2 separate regions of the Homo sapiens genome follow, and region 2 is linked to region 1. Evidence: fine-mapped expression QTL. A gene starts in region 1. The other region holds a variant in brackets. All regions are shown on one strand. Distances are between the middles of the regions.

What was found.
Region 2: its variant is fine-mapped to the expression of TMEM143 in sun-exposed skin (GTEx, PIP 0.96).

What each region holds. Positions count from the first base shown.
Region 1 is chr19:48,362,745-48,365,640 of GRCh38, reverse strand. TMEM143 (transmembrane protein 143) reads left to right here and starts at 1,701. Exons shown (of 8, transcript NM_018273.4): 1 at 1,701-1,743; 2 at 2,110-2,350. The coding sequence starts at 1,721. It overlaps SYNGR4 (synaptogyrin 4), which reads right to left and starts at 1,274. Exons shown (of 5, transcript NM_012451.4): 1 at 1,104-1,274. RefSeq lists enhancers at 980-1,129, 1,500-1,619, 2,100-2,149.
Region 2 is chr19:48,393,801-48,396,696 of GRCh38, reverse strand. It overlaps GRIN2D (glutamate ionotropic receptor NMDA type subunit 2D), which reads right to left. Exons shown (of 14, transcript NM_000836.4): 1 at 2,829-2,896; 2 at 1,761-2,039. It also overlaps a transcript of KDELR1 not described here. Among named protein-coding and RNA genes, the nearest start is that of GRIN2D, 1.6 kb to the right of the region's middle. RefSeq lists a silencer at 458-641. The variant G/A (reference allele first, on the strand shown) is at 1,402.

The sequences.
Region 1 (2,896 bases):
GGGGGTCCCCGGAATGGAGTTGTGTGGGGTGAGGGGACTGCTGAGCCTCTTAGGAGTCAGGGTGTGGGGTGAATGGGCTGTCAGGGGCCCCAGAAGTCGGGGACGTAGGATGGGGGTGCAGGTGGGTCCCAGGGAATGAGGTTGTGTGTGCTGAGGGGGCTTCTGTGGGCCCCAGGAGTGGGGGGCATAGGATGGGGGTGCTGGGGGTCCCAGGAATGGGGTTGTGTGGTGAGGGGGCTACTAGGGGTCCCAGAAGTGGGAGGCATAGGATGGGGGTTCTGGGGGGTCCCAGGAAAGGTGTTGTGTGGAGAGGGCTGCTAGGGGTCCCTGAAGTGGGGGACATAGGATGCGGGTGCTGGGGGTTCCCAGGAATGGGGTTGTGTGTGGTGAGGGAGCTTTCTGGGGGTCCCAGGAGAGGGGGGCATAGGATGGGGATACTAGGGGTCCCAGGCAAGGTGTCGTGTGGGGAGGGCTGCCAGGGGTCACAGAGGTGGAGGTGCAGGATGAGAGAGTCGCTAAGGGTCCCCTGGGTTGAGGTGTGGGTTAAGGGGGTCTATGGAGGATTCCAGAGAGGTGAGGGCCTGGGGTGAGGGTGATTCTGGGGGTCCCAGGAGTGGGGGACATAAGTGAAGGGGCTGCTTCAGGTTCCAGAAGTCAGGAATGTGGGCTGAGGGGGTTGTTGGGCGAGAGGGCTGTCAGGGATCCCAGAGGTGGAGTGCAGGGGAGGGCTGGGATATTTGGGGACCACGTCTTGTGACCCAGGAGCTGAAGGGCCTGCAGAGGGACTGGGTCCTTCTGTGAGAGGACACAGGTGGGACTTTCTGGGGACTAGGGGGTGCGGCCATTGAGATCAGAGCCCCTGGGAGGTCTGAAACCGAATAATCCCTTTCAGGTTTGGGGGTGACAGCACCCTTCGTGGAGAACCCAGGTATCTCAGGGCATATTTCAGGCTGTCCTTGTCACTTGGGGCCATTTCCCAGAATAAGGGCCTCCCTTTCGAATTCAGCTCCATTTTCACGGAAGTGCACCTCCTCAAGCTGGGAGTCGGGACCTCGGATTTGTGGGGAACCTCAGAATGAGGCCACGCCCCGGCACTGGGCTACCTTCTTAGAATCGCGGTCTCCCCTTTAAGGACCTGGAATGGCAGTGCTGAGGTTTGGGGGTGACGGCACCTGAGAAGGGGCCGCCCCTTCTCTGGAGGGCCAATCTGCGTCACCTGAGGGCCCGCCCTTCCTTTCGCCACCCCCACCCCTCCTGGTCCCTAGCGCCACCTCAGCCTTCTTTTGGTTCCGCTTTTTCCCGCCTTTTCGCTCCTCCACAGCTGATTGGCTGCGCCCAAGTCCCGCCCCCTCCCTCTTTCCGCCTACTCAGGAGCTGACACGAGCCGGGGCGTGGCCTCGGCGAACGTTGGACTGCGCGCCGTTGGCGGACTGCGCGCGGGAGCCCTACCCCGCCCCATCCCTCTAGGGAGTCTCGCGTCCACACCGCCCCTTCCCTTTGTAGCAAGCTGACAAGGAGACACTCCTGCGGCGCATGCGTCGCGCCCAAACGAGGCCGGCGGTGGAGAAAGGCAGGCAACGCATGCGTAGTTGATGTAGGGAGTCGGCGGTGAGAAATGGACAGCCCGCATTGACCGAAGCTTTGCGCATGCGTTTTACTGCTGGGTGAAGCCGAACCTCGGGAGCCCAGGACGCCCTCCTGCACATGCGCAGGAGGCTCAATGACAGTCGAGCTTTGGCTAAGGTGAGGGAGAAATCGGGGGATTGCATGGCCAGGGAGGGCGGCCCTGCACCCCCTAGGTAACCTTTACGAGCATTTCCTGCTCTCCTAAGATCTACCTCGCTGTCTAGACCCCAAAGAAACGTTGTACCACTACAGGGTCTCTGGGCCTGAAAAACGCCCCAGAACCTAAGACCTCTGACCCCTGTCTGGGACCCAGGCCAACTGAGCAGTGTGGGAAGGGGACAGGCAACAGGGGCTTTGAGGCGAGCGGATGGGCTCTGCGCCCTGCCTGGGGTAGAGACGGCTTCTGGAGGGTGGGACGTGGAGGTGGAGAGGGCGCTTTTCCTCTAGATGGCCTTTGACCCCTGCCCATTTTCCTCTGTTTAGGCTCCGGGGAAAGGGTCTAGCCATGCTGCATGTGACCCGGGGGGTCTGGGGGTCCAGGGTCCGAGTATGGCCACTGTTGCCCGCGCTCCTCGGGCCCCCCCGGGCCCTCTCATCGCTGGCAGCCAAAATGGGGGAGTATCGCAAGATGTGGAACCCCAGGGAGCCCCGCGACTGGGCCCAGCAGTACCGCGAGCGCTTCATTCCCTTCTCCAAGGAGCAGCTGCTCCGCCTCCTAATACAGGTACCGCCTGTCCCAGGCCCAAGAGCCTGGGGACTACGGCTCCCAGCAGGCTTCGCGGCGGCAGGGCCCTAGTTGCTGCAGAGAGCTGCCCTGGCGCCTCCTGGGAGTTGTAGTTCCCGGGTCCCTTCGTGTTTCCCTAGTGGGCGGGAGATGAGCTGGAATGCAGGAGCCAGGTCTCCGAGATGCAGACGCAGCATCCATTCCCAACTCTGGCTTGTTCTGAGGGCTTGAACAGGCACTCTCTGGGGCATGGTTTTTCCCTCTTTAAGATGGGTATAGTAATCATCCTCATCATTACTATTTCTACTACCTGATAATAATTGTACCTATAAAGTCACAACGCTGTAATCATAATTATTATCACACAATTTGAGCTCTGACTCCATGGCACTGTGCCAGACATTTTTCATGTATTGTTGAATCATCAGTAAGAGAGATACCACCATCATCCCCATTTTACAGATGAGATAATGGAAGCATAGGGAAGGAAAGTGACTTACCCAAGGCCACAACATAGTGGCTTAGATTTGAACCAAAGTGGTCTGA
Region 2 (2,896 bases), 31 kb before region 1:
TCGGGCCCCTGTCTCCCCAGGGAAGGGGTTGGGGGCTCCTAGTATGCCCATCCCTCCCCGATCCTGGCTTCTCTTCGCTCCTCCTTTCCATTGCCCTTCCCCAAGCAGCTGGCTCAATCAGCGCTCAGAATAACCCCCCCACTCCGCCCCAAAATAACCCACAGCTGTGGCCTGGCCCCCGCGGGGTTAACACTCACGCTCCCCTCCATTCCCAGTGGCTGCTCACCCTCCAGCCCCTCCTCTGCCTCTCCCAGACCCACCCCTACCTGGCTTCTGCTCTTAGGGACCCCGCGTCCCACTCCCTACTGAGGCCCAGGAGGGCAGCCCCCGGCCCCACCCTTCTCACGGGGGCTGCATGCTCAGTTCCTAACCACAGGGATTAGGGAGAGCAGCCTCCCCCACTCCAGGGCCTGAGGAGGGGCATCCCCAGTCCTCCAGGACTCTGAAGGCCCAACCCCCAGAACCCACGCCCTCAGGGATCACAGAGTCCAGCCTCTGGACAACCCCCCGCTCCCCCCGCCTCCATCTCTACCTCCTCATGAGCCTCCGTTTCCACTTCCATCTGCATAGGGCTAAAGTCCCCAACACTCATCTCCTGCCCTGTCAGGGACTCAGGAGACTGAGCTCCCAGCCTGCCTTCCTCAGACGGAAGCGCTATCCCCTACCTCCTCCCGTAAAGACCCAGGAGTCCTTCTGGCAGCCCCTTCCTCCCCCAGGCCTTGGGAGTCTGGGCATTCGGTCCTGTTCTTTCCCAGGACCCAGGAGGCCAGGCCCCTCCTGCCCCAAGACTCTGGAACTCCAGTGCCCAGCCTCCTCTCCCTGCAGGAACCAAGAGTCCAGGTCCCCAGCTCCCCTCTTCCCCCAAGGACCCAGGAGTCCGGGTTCCGGCTCCTGTCCTCCCTTAAGGATCCCCTTTTGGTTTCAAACCCTATCCTTCCCAACATCCTGGGTGCCCCCCCACCGAGCTCTGGCCTCCCTAGTCACCCCACTTAGATCCTGTACATAGCACAGCCTGTCCCCAAGCGGGGAGGAGGAGGAGGGTGCCAGAAATTCCTAGGGTGTCCCTGTCTTCATTGCCCCCCACAGCATCCAACAGAGAAGAGAGGAGCGGCCACTTCGATCAACAGCTCCCCCCACAACCTCGAGTTGTGCTGCAGACGGCATCCCGTTTCCTCCCCCCTCACCTCCCAACACACACACACAACATCGGTCTCTCCCCACCCGAATCCTGATGCTTGGAAGAGGCTGGAAGGGTGTTCCAGAACCTTGAGGAAGGGGTGGGAGCTTGGGGCGAGGGGTGCTGGGGGCCTGGATGCCCTCAAGGTCCTTGGCGGGGGTATTAATAGCAGACTCATAGCTCTGACATGGGAGGGGAGAGCGAGAGGAGAGAGGGAGAGGACC[G/A]GCTCGCGATGGGGGGACTGATGCAGGGAGGGGGGTACAGGGAGAAGGTGAGATAGAGAGATGGAGGCACAGGGATATGGGGCATCAGGTATGTGGGGATGGGGAGAGGGAGCCAAGTGTCAGAGAAATGGGGGCGTGAAAGGTCTGAGGTGTAGGGACTCAGGAAAAAGGGGCTCAGAGAGGGAGAGAGAGAGGGTGGAGGAGAGTCCCTGAGGGACAGGGGAGCTAGGTGGGGGTCAAGACCCCTGCCCACCGTTCAAACCCCCTCCCTCCACGAGGCTTCTTGCCAACTTCCTCTGTCCTAGATTTGGGGGTCCACATTCCCACCACCATCCCTGCATCCCCTGTCCCCGCCTTACCTTTTCATGACCCTGTTCTGTTGGGGGGATGGCGGGGGGGCCAGGACCGGAACCCGGCGTCCAGCGACCCCAAGATTCCGAGGAGGGCTCAGAGAGCCGATGTCGGGGGGCAGGCCCCGGGGCGGCGGCAGTGGTGGTGGCGGCAGCAGCGGCAGCCCGGACCTCCTGTCTGTCCCTGGCTCCGTCTCTCCTTCCTCTTCCTTGGTCCTGTCCTGCCCTGTCTCTCCCCCAAGGTTGCGGCCACCTGGACTAGGCGAGGACGTGGCTACACATGTTGCTCTGGAAGTTGGGCCCCGGACATTGCAGAGGCTGTCGGGGTGTCCTCTTGCCGCCCCGACCCCGTGGGGATCCCCCCTCCGCCCACCCGGGGTGCCCCCCTCTGCCGCTTCAGCCCCGGCTCCTCCCCCCTTTCCATGTGTCCAGTCCCGCCTCTCCCTGGCTCACTCGCACCCCCGCTTTGTGCCCTCAGCCCCCCCACCCCCCCTTCCAGCGTCTGTGTCTATCTGTCTGTCTGGGTCACCTCTGAAGCTAGTGGCTGGTGTGTGCGTGTGAGGAGCGGGAGATTGCCTGCTTGGGGAACTGCTTGCCCCTTCCTCGCTTGGCCACCTCTAGACCCCCCCTTGACTCCCCCACTCTCAAACACAGGCAGAAACACACATACACTCACGCACACACGCACGATCTCACTTCCCTGGGATTCCCCCTCAACACCCCCAGAGCTTGAGGAGGGACACACACACAGACACACACACACAGAGTGGGGGGTCTAATGGGGGCCAGGCTGCCACTGCTGATAGGGGCTGTTTGGACAGACAGGAGGACACAGGCAGCCGGGGACGCCCAGACGCCTGGCCGGACGCAGGCAGGAGGCACAGAACCCAGGTACACACCATCCATCTGGGTTTGGGGGGGCCGGGGGGAAGGAGCGGGAGCCCCACGACACCCAGGCAGGCAGCTCAGGGTCGGTACAGACAGACAGACCCCTCCCTCCCTCCGCCGCCGCAGCGCTTACAGACACACCCCCCCTCCACCAGCCAGCCCCAGACACCCGGACACACAGATCCTCACCGGGCAGATGGCAGACGCTCGAGAGACCCCTGGGGGCCGGGCCGACCTACCCAGGCAACACCCCCAGC